Linked DNA regions of Homo sapiens: region 2 is linked to region 1. A link means that fine-mapping ties the variant in region 1 to the plasma level of a protein whose gene starts in the linked region. Region 1 holds a variant in brackets. A gene starts in the other region. All regions are shown on their reverse strands.

Region 1 (8,000 bases):
AGAGGGGCCGGGCATGGTGGCTCAGGCCTGTAGTCTCAACACTTTGGGAGGCTGAGGCGGGTGGATCACCTGAGGTCAGGAGTTTGAGACCAGCCGGGCCAACATGGTGAAACCCCGTCTCTACTAAAAATACAAAAATTAGGAGGGTTTGATGGTGTCCGCCTATAGTTCCAGCTATTTGGGAGGCTGAGGCAGCAGAATTGCTTGAACCCGGGAGGCGGAAGTTGCGGTGAGCCGAGATCGCACCGCTGCACTCCAGCCTGGGTGACAGAGTGAGACTATGTCTCAAAAAAAAAAAATGGCCGGGCGTGGTGGCTCATGCCTGTAATCCCAGTGCTTTGGGAGACCAAGGCGGGCGGATCACGAGATCAGTTCAAGACCAGCCTGACCAACATGGTGAAACCCCGTCTGTACTAAAAATACAAAAATTAGCTGGGTGTGATGGCGCACGCCTGTAGTCCCAGCTACCCGGTATGCTGAGGCAGGAGAATTGCTGGAACCCAGGAGGCAGAAGTTGCAGTGAGCTGAGATGGGGCCACTGCACTCCAGCATGGGTGACAGAGCAAGACTCTGTCTCAAAAAAATAAAAAATAAAAGAGAAGGGGTCAGGAAATGACATCTGCCCTCCTAACCTGTTATCAGGGTCCTGACTATCTGTCCATGGCAGGGCCAGACAACCCTGCTTCCTCATTTGTTTTTTTCATGTCATGAAGTTCTTCAGAACAATTGATTTCATGCTTGAGCTCTCATGGAGCAGCTGAATTCCTGTTTTCAGAGCTGAGCAACCAACCACTTGTGTCTCAGGAAGTGAAACCCTGAACAAGCTGTTTTAATTAGAGGTTTGAGGAAAACAGGAAAGGCCTTCATGTGGGAATCCACAAATCCTGCTCTCACCCCGCAAGCCTTAAGTACTCAGGTTCTATTGCACTGAGCCTTTTAAGGGTCTTTTGTTGAGTGAGGGTAGCTGAGGACAGCTTTGCCTTCCACTGGGGTTTTAGCTCCCTGGCTGAGCAGAGCCTGCCATCATGTTTTTGATGCTTTTGTCTTCCTCAGAACCTTTGTAGCTTCCATGGTTCCTGTTGCTTCAATCCAGAGTGGCCTCTAAACTTTTTTTTTTTGGAGACAGGATCTCACTTTGTGTCCCCCAGGCTGGAGTGTAGTGGTGTCATGGCTCACGGCAACCTCGATCTCTGGGCTCAAACGATTCTTCAGCCTCAGCCTCCAGAGTAGCTGGCACGGCAGGCACATGCCACCACACCCGGCTAATTAAAAAAAATTATTTTGTAGAAACGAGGTCTCACTATGTTACCCAGGCTGATCTCAAACTCCTGAGCTCAAGTAATCCTCAGCCTCTTTTTTTTTTTTTGAGATGGAGTCTTGGCCCTGTCGCCAGGCTGGAGTGCAGTGGCGCCATCTTGCCTCACTGCAACCTCCACCTCCCGGATTCAAGCAATTCCCCTGCCTCAGCCTCCCGAGTAGCTGGGATTACAGGCACGCGCCACTATGCCCGGCTAATTTTTTGTATTTTAATAGAGACAAGGTTTCACTATGTTGGCCAGGATGGTCTTGATCTTCTGACCTCGTGATCCGCCTGCCTCGGACTCCCAAAGTGCTGGGATTACAGGCATGAGCCACTGTGCTGGCCAATCCTCAGCATTTTAAAGTGCTGGGATTACAGGTATGAGCGACTGCACCCGGCCTACAAGTTTCCATCTTGTTAATTCCTGTCCTAACAGTCATCCCTCACTGTTGCCTGGCCCACCTGAGGCCAGGCGCCTGAAGCTTCCCTCAGCCAACAGCATAGGATGTCTTACGTGCCTCCCTCCGGTTCTTTTGGAAGTTAGATACTGGGAATTGTCCCCTGCCAGGGTAGGGAGGGATCACTCATGCTTGCCTCCTTTCCTTAGGGGAGATCTTCGAGCTGAAGGCAGAGCTCAACAGTGACAAGAAGGAGAAGAAGAAGGAGGCAGTGAAGAAAGTGATTGCATCGATGACCGTGGGCAAAGATGTCAGGTGTGCAGGAGTAGGCCTGGTGGCAGCTAGAAGCTGGCTGACAGGGGAGGGTTTATAGCTTGGGTCCACTTCAGTCTCTCCTTTAGGGTGTCTAGGGACCCATGTCTCCCCTCATACAGCTCCCTTCATAAAACTTTCTTCCCAATAGAAGGTTTTGTTTACACAGGAATCATGAGCCCAGACACTGACAGGTCAGGTGGTTATGGAGTGAGTTAACTGGAGTAGGTGGGAAAGGCAGCAGGCAATGGAGTGGGTGTGGCATGAACCCTCTCAGAAACTCCAGAGGATCAGTACTGGCTGGGGAAGAGGACCCAGTGTGGCCAGGTCTTCTGGTTTTTAAAAGAATGGGAAATCTGGGCCAGGCGCGGTGGCTCACGCCTGTAATCCTAGCACTTGGGGAGGCCCAGGCGGGCGGATCTCGAGGTCAGGAGTTCGACACCAGCCTGGCCAATATGGTGATATCCTGTCTCTACTAAAAATACAAAAAGTAGCCGGGCATGGTGGCGCATGCCTGTAGTCTCAGCTACTCGGGAGGCTGAGGCAGGAGAATTGCTTGAACCTGGGAGACACAGGGTGCATTCAGCTGAGATTGTGCCACTGCAGTCCAGCCCAGGTGACAGAGCGAGACTCAGTCTCAAAAAAAAAAAAAGAAGAATGGGAAATCTGGATTTTTCATTTTAAATCTCCCTGTCTTAAGTGGCCAGATGATATTAAACAAACACTGTGTGGTGCAAGTAAAACACACGTGCAGATTGGATTTCTCTAATTTGTCACCGGTGTGCAGCCTCTGTCGCACCTGATGGCTAAAGCCGGTTGTGTGTAGAGCGGCTGCCGCACCTTGGCTCATGCTTCCCCTGTGGGAGCGCCCAGTGACCCAGCTTGTCTTCCCATCTTTAAAAACCCATTCGAGGCCGGATGTGGTGGCTCACACCTGTAATCCTAGCACTTTGGGAGGCCGAGGCGGGTGGATCACGAGGTCAGGAGTTCAAGACCAGCCTGGCCAACATGGTGAAACCCCGTCTCTACTAAAAATACAAAAATTAGCCAAGCGTGGTGGTGGGCACCTGTAATCCCAGCTACTTGGGAGGCTGAGGCAGAGAATTGCTGGAACCTGGGAGGCAGAGGCTGCAGTGAGCCAAGATCACGCCACTGCACTCCAGCCTGGGCAACAGAGCAAGACTCCATCTCAAAAAAAAAAAACATTCAAGGTCTGCCTTCCCTGTGTTTCCTTCCCTGATCACCCCAGCCCACTACCTCAAACTCAAAGCATTTGCTGTCTGTTCCCATCACCCAGCACTAAATGGAAACTGTTCTCTTGTTATGTGTACTTGTGTTTACCTGCTCACCAGATTGTAAAATCTCAAAGGCAGAGACTGGATTTTAAAACAGCTTGATATTTGCACAGTATTTGAGAGTCTGCACAGAACATTTTGAGATTTGTTTTCTCAGTAGTTCCTTACAATTCCCATATTGTAGGTAATGACAGTTTTACTGCCAAAGAAATAAAAACATAAAGTGACTGCCTAAGAGTCACATGGTTTATGGCAGAACTAGGACTCAAGCCCAGTTCTTCTGAAATCCAAATCCAGGCCACTTTCACCCATGCCCTCGTGGTGCCCAGCCCTGTGCCTCATAACCCGGGTGCTGAGGTGGAGCAGCTCCCATCCAGGTCCCAAGATAGGCTCCCACTGCTCCAGACGTCCCCATGGATCGCCCCCCAAGCAAAGGACCTCCTGCCAGCAGCTCCGGGAAGGGGCTCTGCAGAGAGCCCTTTGGAAGCCAGAGCAGAAAGGAAACAGGTACCTGCTGGACAACTGGGCCTCCTTCCAAGTCAGATTCCTTCCAGGACAAAGCTGCTCTCCTTCACCCAGCACACCACTGTCACCTCCTCACAGAGGA[G/A]AAACATCTTTGTTCTTCCATCTCAAAAGAGCTGGCTTTGCTGATATGATAAGCCCCAAAGAGCGAGTCGGCCTCATCAGCAGTTTTTCCTCCTCCCTCCTCCCCATTCTTCCTGGTGCATCATCTTCCAAGGTGACACATAAATTTTGGCTTTGGCAGGACTCCTGCCTGTTGGGGATCAGGAAGTTCACTTTGACCTCCTAAGTCTCTATGTTGACACGTCCTTTCCTATAAACACATAAGAATTGAGAGGGGATATGATGATTTCAGAGATAGAAAATTGATCTCTAACCAAATTTCACATCTTAAGAAGGCCTGTGACTCTGGGACCACGGGTACCATGTTGAGAAGGGTTCCACCCAGTGGTCATGAGCACGGACCTTGTTCTCAGACCTGATTCCTCCAGGCAGGTTATTTGACATTTATGAACCTCAGTGTTCTCTGAAATGGGGATCATCCCCTGACTTCTGAGGGCAGTTAAATGAGATCAAGCATGTAAAGCTCTTAGCACCAAGCCTGGTGTATGGTGTGTGCTCCATGCATGCTGTGCTGGTTCTTACCGGGTGCCAGAGCTTGTGGAGAAAGCAGCATGAGCCATCCTGCTTCCCTGCGACCCTCCAGAACCAGCAGCCCAATGTAAGGGGCCACATTAAGTATCAGAGAGGGAGAAAGGATCATTTTCATTTACTCAGCATCTCCCAGATATCAAGGACCAGATACCTAAGTATGTTGTCTCATTCAGTTATCATAAAGGCCCTGTGAAGTGAGTTTCTGTTGCGTCTTTCTTGGAAGTTAGAAAATTGAGACTCAGGGCGAGGGGGCAGGTGACAAAGGAATTTCTCCAATGTCATATAGCTAGCAAGAGGCAGTGGTGGGTTTGATGGGCTCCAGAACTCATGTTTGAACTATATGAAAAGAATCAAGGACTTTCCTGCTTTTAAAATTACCCTTTGGGATTCCCTTTCTATCAATAGGTGTTGATTGTTAACAGCAGACCTGAAACCCTCCCTTTTACCAGGAAGTCCAGTGTGTCTCTCCTTTCTCTCCTACCCACTGTCCTCTCACCCACTAGTTAGCAGCCTGAAAATCTTCCTCTTCCTTTGTTCAGCCTTTCCCATGCTGACACCATTTTGACCTTCCAGTGCCCTCTTCCCCGATGTGGTCAACTGCATGCAGACGGACAACCTGGAGCTGAAGAAGCTAGTATACCTCTACTTGATGAATTACGCCAAGAGTCAGCCTGACATGGCCATTATGGCCGTCAACACCTTTGTGAAGGTGAGCAGACGCTTGGTGGGCGTGGGGACATTGGGTGCTTAAGGCTCTGTCTCCCCTCAGTCTCTTTGGGGCGGGGCCCTGTGGCACTGGATGGAGTCCAGACCTTCAGACTGCCCGCGCCCGCCCAGCCTGCAGGCCTCTTCCTCCAGCAGAGGGCTCCCACTCTCCAGAAAATCAGATGCTAAGGACCCTGCGTAACTCATCCTGTGTGAGGTCCTGCCAGGCCTGTTGATCCCCTCACTGCCCTGATTGGACCCTGCCCTGCATGCTTTGCTAGGGCAGGAATCAGCAGGTGCCCGAGAGCTTCTCTGTTGCCCTTACAGACTGCTGCTTTCTCCATTTTCTGTCCTTCAGATTAAATTGTCAGCTCTGTGCACCTATATTTTAATTTTATTTTCTCCTAATGTTCAGTACCTCTGAATTTGTATACCTTTAGAACCTTAGCTCCCCTGAGTCCTGTCCGTGCTCGGATATGGGGAAATGAGGCTTCTGTGGCCCAGTGGAAAGACCGAGGGCTGTGATGCTAGGTGGATGTGGGTTTGAATCACGGCTCTGCTCTGTGGCTTCAGATGAGCTCCTAGCCTTTCTGAGAGCCTCAGTTTCATCATCTATAAAATGGGACCCGTATTGTATTTCTACTGTGAGGATCAGAGGAGATGGTGTGCAGAGCTGGCATGGGTGCTGGTTATATAGCATTTACTTTTGCTGTTGTTGGCTGTAGTTGGTGAAGATCCACAGCAGCCATCTGATGTCGCTCAGCCTAGCAGGGCTCAGAGCTGCAGGCCAGGGAGAATATGAAGCCACAGATGGCTCATCCCACCCCTGCCCTGGCCGATGGCTGGTTCCCCCCAGGACTGTGAGGACCCCAACCCCCTCATCCGAGCCCTGGCAGTGCGGACCATGGGCTGCATCCGCGTTGACAAGATCACAGAGTACCTGTGCGAGCCACTCCGGAAGTGCCTGAAGGACGAGGATCCATATGTGCGCAAGACAGCAGCTGTGTGCGTGGCCAAGCTCCACGACATCAACGCCCAGCTGGTGGAGGACCAGGGCTTCCTGGACACCCTTAAAGACCTCATCTCCGACTCTAACCCCATGGTAAGCCACTGCCACCCACCGTGCTACCTCCACCACCTCCTGGGTTGCTTGGGAAGACATTGGCTTGACTCTTCACCAGGCAGTCCTGAGTACCTAGAAGTCGGAGCCTGGCTGGGGGTGCCAGTTGTTCTTGTGCCTTTTGGTGGTTCAGGCACCCTCTCTGGAGGGAGCTAGACCTAGATTCCCTTCTCCTCACCCTCTGACTAGCTGCGCAACCTGGGGCAAGCTGCCTAGGCTCTCTTTTCTTCATCAGTGAGATGGATCTCATTCTACGTGGCTGGCAGGAGTGCTGTGAAGGTGACGTGCCTGGGATGGCCTGGTAACGGTGCACCATCAATACTAGTGCCCTCCTTCCCCTTCTAGTCACTGTTATTGTTGCTGTCTTCTCACCAAGCCAATATGCTGCATGTGTGGTGCTTTTCCCTTCCCCCATCTTTGTTGGGTTGTAGAGGGTCACCCTTGAAGTAGCATAGCCTGGAAGACAGGACATCAGGATGTAGCTGGATGTGGAACCCCACAGTCCCCTTACCCACAATGGTGGCAGCAGTTTGGAGGGCAGTTTGGCAGGGCCTGTTTAAAATGAATGCACAAACCCAGCCATTCCCCACTCTGAGCAGAAACACTGAGCAACTGCCATACACAGTACTGAGCGGCCAGTACAGGGATGGGTACTGGAGCACTGGATGGTTCACAGAGAAAAGTTGGAAACAATGCAGAACACCCTTAAAAACAGCTGCCTGGGCCGGGTGCAGTGGCTCACGCCTGTAATCCCAGCACTTTGGGAGGCTGAGGTGGGTGGATTACGAGGTCAGGAGATTGAGACCATCCTGGCCAACATGGTGAAACCCCATCTCTACTCAAAATACAAAAATTAGCCGGGTGTGGTGGCATGTGCCTGTAATCCCAGCTACTCAGGAGGCTGAAGCAGGAGAATCACTTGTACCCAGGAAGTCGGAGGTTGCAGTGAGCTAAGACTGCGTCACTGTACTCCAGCCTGGCGACAGAGCTAGACTCCGTCTCAAAAAAAAAAAAAAAAACAGCTGCCTGAGGCCGCGCGCAGTGGCTCATACAGGATTACATGCCTGTAATCCCAGCTATTTGGGAGGCTGAGGCGGGTGGATCACCTGAGGTCAGGAATTCAAGACCAGCCTGGCCAACATAGTGAAACCCTGTCTCTACTAAAAATATAAAAATTAGCTGGGCATGGTGGTGCGTGCCTGTAATCTCAGCTACCTGGGAGGCTGAGGCAGGAGGATTGCTTGAGCCCAGGAGGCAGAGGTTGCAGTAAGCCAAGATTGCACCACTACACTCCAGACTGGGCAACACAGTGAGACTCAATCTCAAAAACAACAAAAACAAGCTATGTGCAGTGGCTCACGCCTATAATCCTAGCACTTTGGGAGGTTGAGGTGGGAGGATCACCTGAGGTCAGGAGTCTGAGACTAGCCTGGCCAACATGGCGAAACCCCATCTCTACTAAAAATACAAAAATCAGCTGAGTGTGGTGGTGCATGCCTGTAATCAGTCCCAGCTACTCGGGAGGCTGAGGCATGAGAATCACTTGAACCCAAGAGGTGGAGGTTGCAGTGAGCTGAGATCACACCACTGCACTGCAACCTGGGCGACAGAGCACAACTCCATCTCAAAAAAAAAAAACAAAAAACAAAAAAAAACACCTTCCTAGTGGAAATGGATTGAGGGCCTGGAGCTTC
Region 2 (8,767 bases), not on the chromosome of region 1:
CCTGTGGTGCCAGCTACTTAGGAGGCTGAGGTGGGAGAATCACTTGACCCCGGGAAGTCAAGGCTACAGTGAGCAATGATCATGCCACTGCACTCCAGCCTGGATGACAGAGTGAGACCCTGTCTCAAAAAAAAAAAAAAATATATATATATATATATAATGTGTGTGTGTGTGTGTGTATATATATATATGTATATATTTATATATATAAAATCTAGCCCTATGTTCCAAAGCATAAAAGTTAGCTCAGCCTTCTAGATACAAACACTGAGAAAGATGGAGAACAAATTTAAAAAGGAGAAAGGTGCTTGTATTTTTCTCCCACTTAATTCAGTTTTGTGAAAAAATACACTGAAGAATCAATATTTACCATAAGACATACATTTATATTGGAATCAAAGTTTTCAAGAGTGCTTGTGAAAAACCACTACTGTGATAATCACATGATAATAATTATCTTTCTTAGCATTTCAACGAGGGAAATGAAATAGAGGAGTATCAGGATTATACCATTAGCGTGATGTCTATGTCAGAACCACAGTTGGATCCCTTCCAGCCAAATGTGAGACCCGCAAATGGCAACAGGAATAACCTAATTTGCACTTACTTGATCTAACAGCGCAGCAAGAAATCTAAGGGGATGTGGAAAAGTACAAGCCGTTGAGCAAAGTCCTGGATCTACATCTACCTGCTAAACAGTCACCTTCTGGACATTTTACCTCCCTGAGCCTGGTGCTTCATCTATAAAATGATGATGTCAAAATGCATCATTTCCTAGTTTGTTCTTGCTTTAATGGTCTATGATTCTAAGGCTTCTCTGTCCACCAAGACGTCTCTCATTATCATTTTTTGCAGATGTTCTAGGCTTTTCATGATACTACCTGACCCACTGTTTGAGCGCCTTCCCAGAGCCTAGAAAGGCTCCATATTGCCCTGGGACCAATAGCAGCAGCTAGCAAGAGCCTATTGTTGGCCAGGTGTGGTGGCTCATGCCTGTAATGTCAGCACTTTGGGAGGCTAAGGTGGGCAGATCACGAGGTCAGGAGTTCAAGACCAGCCTGGCCAACATGGTGAAACCCCATCTCTACTAAAAATAGAAAAAATTAGCCGGGTGTGGTGGCGGGTGCCTGTAATCCCAGCTACTCGGGAGGCTGAGGCAGGAGAATTGCTTGAACCCACGAGGCAGAGGTTGCAGTGAGCCAAGATCACACCATTGCACTCAAGGCTGGGTGACAGAGAGAGACTCCATCTCAAAAAAAAAAAAAAAAAAAAAAGCCTACTGTTGGCATCTCTTCCCAACTCTGCCCCCAGGGGCATCAAGTCAGTAGCTTGAAATCAACCATGGTGGGAATATTTACAGCATGGACATCAGTAAACAGCAAAACAGCATAAGTCAAATCAGTGCTTCCTTTCTTTTCCTTCTTGGAACCAGTAGTTGTTTGCCAATACACCACTACCTGTGAGCCAAACCCTCCCATTTCCAAGTTAAACTTCTTTGCTGTGGTCTAACCTCTGTGTCCCACCGGCTCTCATGGTGCATCTACCATGATTATAACCCAACTGAGCTGGAAACCTTGCTGCTGAGTGCTAAAAAGATAGTGCGGCAAGAACAACAGTAGGAAAGGTGAGCGTCTAGCCCTGTTAACCTCTAGACTCCTGGACCCCTCCAGGGAGAACCAGCCCATCCGTTGGCAGCAGCCCACAGAGACTTATGGTGCTAATGCTGTGGGATGCTCTCCTGAAGGTGGAAGGAAGGGGTGTGGATTGAAAAGAAATAAACTGATGGCAAGTAGGGAGACCTTCCCATGGGTTTTCCTAGTGGGCAGGAAGCCAGGGGAGAGGTGTTGGGGCTTCGCATAGTTTAACCTGCTGCTAACTAAGCAGGTGCCCTGCCTTTACACAAATTCCTCCAATCACATGCTTCTCGGGCCAAGAAAAGATAAAATAAAAGTTACAGGCTGGGTGCAGTGGCTCACATCTATCATCCTGCACTATGGGAGGCCAAAGTGGGAGGATCACCAGAGCCCAGAAGTTTGAGATCGGCCTGAGCAAGATAGTGAGACCCCATCTCTACAAAAATAAAAAAAAATAAAAAAAATTAAAAATTAGCCTGGCATAGTGGCTCAAGCCCAAAGTCCCAGCTACTGGGGAGTTGGGAGTGGGCCAAGGTGGGAGGATTGCATGAGCCCAGATGTCAAGGCTGCAGTGAGCCATGATCACACCACTGCACTCCAGCCTGGGTGACAGAGTGAAACCAGTCTCAAAAAACAAAACAACACAAATTACAGGCTTTCACGTAGGAAAAAAAAATCTGGAAGGGGGGTCCCTTGAATTTTTTGTTTGTTTATTCTCCAAGTAAACAGATCTTCAGCATCCCCCTTCTCTCCCCAATATTTGTGCCTATGAAGAGGAAGACATTAGTCAGAGGAGGGCATCCTGCTGTCAGGAAGAGGGAAACACTCCTGAGCAAACCGAGAAACACTATTGCTCAAAGCATTATTGAGTCAGTTTAAAGAAAATTAGGCACTGTGTCTGTGCTGCCCAGTATGATAGCCAGTCACCTCATGTAACCATTGTACACTTAAAATGACACTACTGTGAATTGAGACATGCTATAAGTATGCAATACTCACCAGATTTTGAAGAGTTAGTTTTAAGAAATGAATGGGAAAATATTCCAAATCGATTAAATGTTGAGGGATAATATTTCCGAGTTACTGGGTGAAATAAAATACATTAATAATATCAGGGCTGGGCGCTGTGGCTCATGCCTATAATCCCAGCACTTTGGGAGGCTGAGGAGGGCAGATCACTTGAGGTCAGGAGTTCGAGGCCAGCCTGGCCAACATGGTGAAACGTTGTCTCTACTAAAACTACAAAAATCAGCTGGGCATGGTGGTGCATGCCTGTAATCCCAGCTACTTGGGAGGCCGAGGCAGGAGAATCACTCGAACCCAGGAAGTAGAGGTTGCAGTGAGCCAAGATCATGCCACTGCACTGCAGCCTGGGCAACAAAATGAGAATCTGTCTCAAAAATAAAAATAAAATTAATTTCATCTATCCTTTTTATTTGGCCTTTTATGTACTTCTTTTCTGCCACTGATTTTAATAGCTAACACTTATAAGGCACTTACTATGGGTCATACTCTGTTCTAAACATTTCACATATTGTTACTCATTGAATCATCACAAGAACTGATGGGGGCAGGTAATATTATTCTTTCCATTTTATAGACATGGAAACTAAAGCACAAAGAAATAAAGTAGCCTGCCCAAGGTCGCAAAGCTAGTGAGTGAGAGAGACAGGATGTAAACCATACCGCCTTCACTTGTGTTTTTGTAATCACTACCACTCAATACTTATGATTTAACATTTGCGGTACTAAAACACTCTCTTCCTAGGAAACTTCCCACCCGCCTTCACATCAGTGCATAGAGTAGATCGTAGGCACAAACCATTCTCTGCAAGTGTTTGTTGATTTCATAGAATTAAAGGGGGATCAGAAATCAAAAAATCAAATTTGAAATCTCTTCTAAATCATCTCCAAATAGAACCAGGAATGAAAATCCCCCGAGGCACTCCCATCCTGAAGTTTAAGCAACTGAGTATAGAGAAATAGAAAAGACAGACTGGAAAAGGTATTTGAGAATTTGAACAACTCTGGAGCTGTTCCTAATGAGTAATCTCTAATCTCCAGAAAAAGAAGAAAAACAGGAATCGATCTGCTTATGCGGCAGTTTGAATAGTCTAGAATACAGATAAGGATGAACTTTCTAACAATCAAGTGTCTGAATGATTCTGGCAGAAAAAAAAATGAGTATGGAAATTGCTTAGAATCTCTTTTGGGGGGATGATCTGCGATGATACCCTCGGACCTAAGACGCGGGGAGACATCAGGGCTGCCCTCCTTCCAGCCAGAGACACTCAGAAGGTGTTTGTTGGCGGTGAGACAGAAATAGTGTGAATTGAAAACCAGAAAGAGTAAACCACAGAGCAGGAAATTTCTGCACGAAGAAAACAGGGAAGGAACAACGAGCGATGAGAGAAGTCAGGAGGACACTGAAGGTCTGTAGGGTTCCCGGCAGGGCAGCAACCGAGACCTGAGACGCATCCTCCTCCCTCCTCCAACTCCAGGCCTCCCATGCCTGGCCGCCAGGTGAAGGCAGCAGGCTTAGCCGTGGACTGCGTGGTGCAGGGGAACCCCGTTTCCTCCTCACAAAGATGTTGAAAGGAACCCATTCACAGTAACCCAGAAGAGGAAGGTGTGGTTCCGGCCCCCCAGGTCAGAGATCCCCTGCCTCAGAGCAGACTTACCCAGTAGGAGAACAGCACCCGGAATGACAGAGGCAAAAACCAGGAGCAGGGGTAGCCTCATGGCCCAGGGTTTATCCTTTCCTTCTCCTGATGGACAGGAGGGCGGAACTAAGACGCAAAACAACGAGGCCCCCCAACTGCCTCTCCACCTAATCCAAGTTCCCAGAGCTGCCCAGCTGAAAAGAACTACAGAGGAAGCCCTCCCTTTTAAAGGGCTCCTGAATTTAGGGAAAGCCTCTACTGAGGAGACATCCTGTCACATGAGGGTGGCTGGAAAAACAGGAATTCAAAGTAACAACTTTGCTTCGTAAGCTAACTTCTGAGAAGAGCAGACGCAGAGGAAGGGGAGAAAGGGACACGTGTGGGAGAGGAGTGGCGGGGTGGGGAGGAGAGAGGGCGATGGTGATGGTGAGGAGTCAGGAAGGAGAGAAGTGAAACAGCCTGGGAGCTCCCGGCCTGCTCAGATGGGGCTGGGTGGAGATCAAGCTGCAGGCCATTACCTGTGCCGGAAGACGGAGCTTCCCCTGGGAAGCAGCTGAGTCAGGGGTCCCTCAGCAGACAACCTCCACTCTGAAGTGACAGCCACACGGGCCCTGGAAAGGACAGTTTTACGCTGGAAACACTTCAGAGTTGAAGCTCATCCCCTTCAGTTTCCACATTCAGTGCTTAGAGCCTTTCTTTTTTTTCTTGGAAAGTTTCAACAGAAAGTTCCGTGGAGCTTCATTTCCTCCAGGCAGAAGAAAAGTGAAAAGGAGGCTACACCTAAGAGGGAATGTCAGTCAGGCCAGGAAGGAGAAAGTTCTAGAAACCTTTTGCTAGAACGTTCTCTAGAAAGCCAGAAAAAACAGTGGTAAAGGATTTGCAGTAAAGCCTTGCTGCCCAGCCTCAACCATCCCGGTCCTCTTCAAGTTTAAGTGGGTCCCCTTGCTAGAAAAAGAAAATCTGGCCAGGCACAATGGCTCACGCCTGCAATCCCAGCAGTTTGGGAGGCCGAGGCAGTCAGATCACCCGAGGTCAGGAGTTTGAAACCAGCCTGGTCAACATGGCAAAAACCCGTCTCTACTAAAAATACAAAAGTTAGCCGGGTGTGATCATGCACACCTGTAAGCCCAGCTACTCAGGAGGCTGAGGCAACAGAATCGTTTGAACCTGGGAAGTGGAAGTTACAGTGAGTCAGGATCGCACCACTACACTCCAGCCTGGGCGACAGACGCGAAACTCCATCTCAAAAAAAAAAAAGAAAAGAAAAAAAAGAAAAAGAAAATCTGATTGTTTGGTCAAAAGGTATATCTTTATTTAAAGGCAAGTGGAATTCTTTCTTAGAATAAAATATGTTTCTAGATCTTTCATTAAGCAGAAAATAACCCTCCAAACATTTATGTTGTCATTTTTCAAAAGTAGAACAGGAATTTAGAACATTTTAAAGCAGAAACTAACGATTAGCTGGCCAAACCGTTACTAGAGTGTGGAATATGTTAGTAATTCAAAAAGAAGCTACTGGAAACATTGTAATTTTTAAAATTTTTTAAATGAATAGTTTTATCTTCAAACGGAAAGCCTCCACATTCGTTGTCTTTGTGATAAAGTTGAAAAGTTTCCATCCTATTAGAAATGTGATGTAGTTCTCTTACTGATTGTTTTTAACATGTAAATTTGAGATTATCCTGACCGGAGGGAAAAAGATAGTGAAAATGTAGGACAGAGGACCAAAGTTTCTTTGTCACTAAGGCTGTACATGACTGAAAAAAAAAATGATGGTTATAGAACAGAACAGACAAAACAAAAATGTTTCTCAGACATTGTTTCACTGGCTTATGAAAATAATAGTTTAAATGGGTCATTTGTGGCTTTCAAATATAAATAAATCATATACAAAAGTGACTGCCTAATTTACATTTATATATATTTCAGAAGCAAATACATTTAATTGAATTATGTATATAATCACATTCAGGGTTGGTTTGTTTCTTTGAGACAGAGTCTTGCTCTGTCGCCCAGGCTGGAGTGCAGTGGTGCAATCTGGGCTCACTGCAACCTCCACCTCCCGGGTTCAAGCGATTCTCCTACCTCAGCCTCCCAAGTGGCTGGGATTACAGGCGCGTGCCATGATGCCCAGCTATTTTTTGCATTTTTAGTATAGACGGGGTTTCACCATGTTGGCCAGGCTGGTCTCAAACCCCTGACCTCAAGTGATCCGCCCGCCTTGGCCTCTGAAAGTGCTGGGATTACAGACGTGTGCCACCATACCTGGCCCAGGGTTTGTTTTTTAATTACATAAGTGTGTATATCACATTAGTAAAATTAAAAATTAGGATCAGTACTAAAATCTGTGAAGTTTAAACAAAATGCAGCCAACCACCCCACAAAGAATTTACCCCATGACCTTGACCTCGTTGAAACAAAGATTTATCAGGCTACAAGAGGCCACTGGGGCAAAAAATAAATCCAAATCTTGGGGAAGGGATGTCACAGAAGATGGTGGTGTGGGAAACTCCAGGAATTCATCCCTCCATCTAAGCAGCCATCAAATGGACAGGAACTGACTGAAGTAACTGCAGGTGCTCCTCTACTCATGATCAAATTAGGCCCTGTTAAACCCAATGTGAGTTGAAATATGCTAAGTCAAAAATGCACTTAATACACCTGACCTACCAAACATCACGGCTCAGCGTAGCCTACCTTAAACGTGTTGAGAACACTTACATTAGCTTCCAACTGGGCAAAATTGATAGGGACAGGAGGCAGAGAAGTGCTAGGTAGAGAAGGGCAGGATCCCTGGCGAGGGCTCCACCCTCGGACCTGTGCCCACGGACCTAAGTGGGAACAGGCACTCCTGTTTTCATGCGCAAATGTTACATTTCCAAGACCACTATGATTCACCACACCCCGCATCCTGTGCCCATAAAAACCTGAGACCTTAATGGGCATAGACACAAGCGCTAAACATTGAGAAGAGTGAAGGAATAGAGCAGTGGAGAGCAGTGGGGTGGCGCAGCAGAGAAAGAGAGAAGAAGGACATCTGGACACCAAGGGGAGTTTGGCCAGCAGTGGTTGGAGAATAGTCTGGGGGGTTAGGCAGCCTGGCTCCAGGGGAAGACCACCTTCCCACTCCACTCCCCACTTCCAGTTCCCCATCCATCTCGCTGAGAGCCACCTACACCACTCAATAAAACCTTGCACTCAACCCTCCAGCCCACATGTGATCTGATTCTTCCAGTACACTGGGCAAGAACTCAGGCTGTCACACTGCCTCCCTGTCCTTGTGATAAGGCAGAGGGTCTATTGAGCTGACTAACACAAGCTGTCTGCAGATGGTATAGCTGAAAGAGCACACTGTAACACACGCCCACTTGGGCTTCAGGAGTCCTAGATGCTGCCGTGGGGTGGAGCCCAAAAGCACTCCCCACAGCCTCTGCACCTGCCCATCTGCATGCTGCATGCTCCCCCCTAGGGGTTTGAGCAGCAGGGCACCAAAGGAGCAAGCCTCATTCCTGTCGCACCCCCTGCGAGGGTCATAAGGGAACTCTTCTATTTCAAAATCATCTAACAAAACCTATTTTATAATACAGTGTTGAGTATCTCGTAATTTATTGGATATGGTACTAAAAGTGAGAAGCAGAATGGGTGTATGGGTATTCGAAATACATTTTCTACTGAATGCACCATTTCTATTTCACATCATCATAAAGTGGGTAAATCATTATGTCTAACAATCCTAAGTCAAGGACCATCTGTATTTGGGAACTAGTCTAGTCAGAAACTTGGAGCATCCAAGGGAGAGCTTGATAAAGAGGCTGGTACATTTCAGCGAATTTCAGCTTCTCCCTGTGGTTATGGCTGTGTCAGGCAGCTGTGAAGGGGGAAGCAGCCCACACGCCCAGTGCAGCTAGGTGAGGCCAGGCCGGGCAACAAGGATTTAGCCCTCCAAATGTCAGGACTGTGTGTTCTGATTGGTGCTTTTATTTGCTTTCATCACTTCTCTTCAACTTAGTACTGGAAGTTCTAATAAGAGCATGTAGGAAAGAAAAAAATAAATAAAAGCATCCAAATTAAAAAGGAAGAAGTGAAATTATCTCTGTACACAGATGGCCTGATTTTAAATGTAGGAAGTCCTAAAGCTTACACACACACACACACACACACACCACACACAAATACCACATACACATACACAATAGACACATACACACCACACACACACACCACACACACATACATACACACGCCACACACACACACATACACACCACACACACAAACTGTAGCACTAACAAATTTAACAAAGTTGCAGGACACAAAATCAAAACACAAAAATCAGTTGAATTTTGATACACTTGTAATGAACAATCTGAAAATAAAATTAAGAAAATTCCATTTGCAATAGAATCAAAAAGAACAAAATACTTAGGAATAAATTTAACTACGTAGACAAAAGACTTGTCCACTGAAAAC

Alleles and levels. Positions count from the first base shown, and alleles are read on the strand shown. Strength reflects both the effect of a copy and how common the allele is.
In carriers of allele G in region 1, the plasma level of the protein whose gene starts at base 4,494 in region 2 tends to be lower than with A alone (weak association).

The links. PIP is the posterior inclusion probability: the model's chance that the variant is causal. Protein levels are from antibody-based Olink assays in UK Biobank. Linkage for the fine-mapping came from a reference panel and not from the study's own genotypes, which makes the PIPs less certain.
Region 2: MRC1 starts here. The variant in region 1 is fine-mapped to the plasma level of the MRC1 protein (UK Biobank, PIP above 0.99).

The regions. Positions count from the first base shown.
Region 1 is chr22:29,357,014-29,365,013 of GRCh38, reverse strand. It overlaps AP1B1 (adaptor related protein complex 1 subunit beta 1), which reads left to right. Exons shown (of 23, transcript NM_001127.4): 3 at 1,908-2,013; 4 at 5,055-5,190; 5 at 6,043-6,288. Among named protein-coding and RNA genes, the nearest start is that of AP1B1, 28 kb to the left of the region's middle. The variant G/A (reference allele first, on the strand shown) is at 3,913.
Region 2 is chr10:17,805,075-17,813,841 of GRCh38, reverse strand. MRC1 (mannose receptor C-type 1) reads right to left here and starts at 4,494. Exons shown (of 30, transcript NM_002438.4): 1 at 4,316-4,494. The coding sequence starts at 4,376.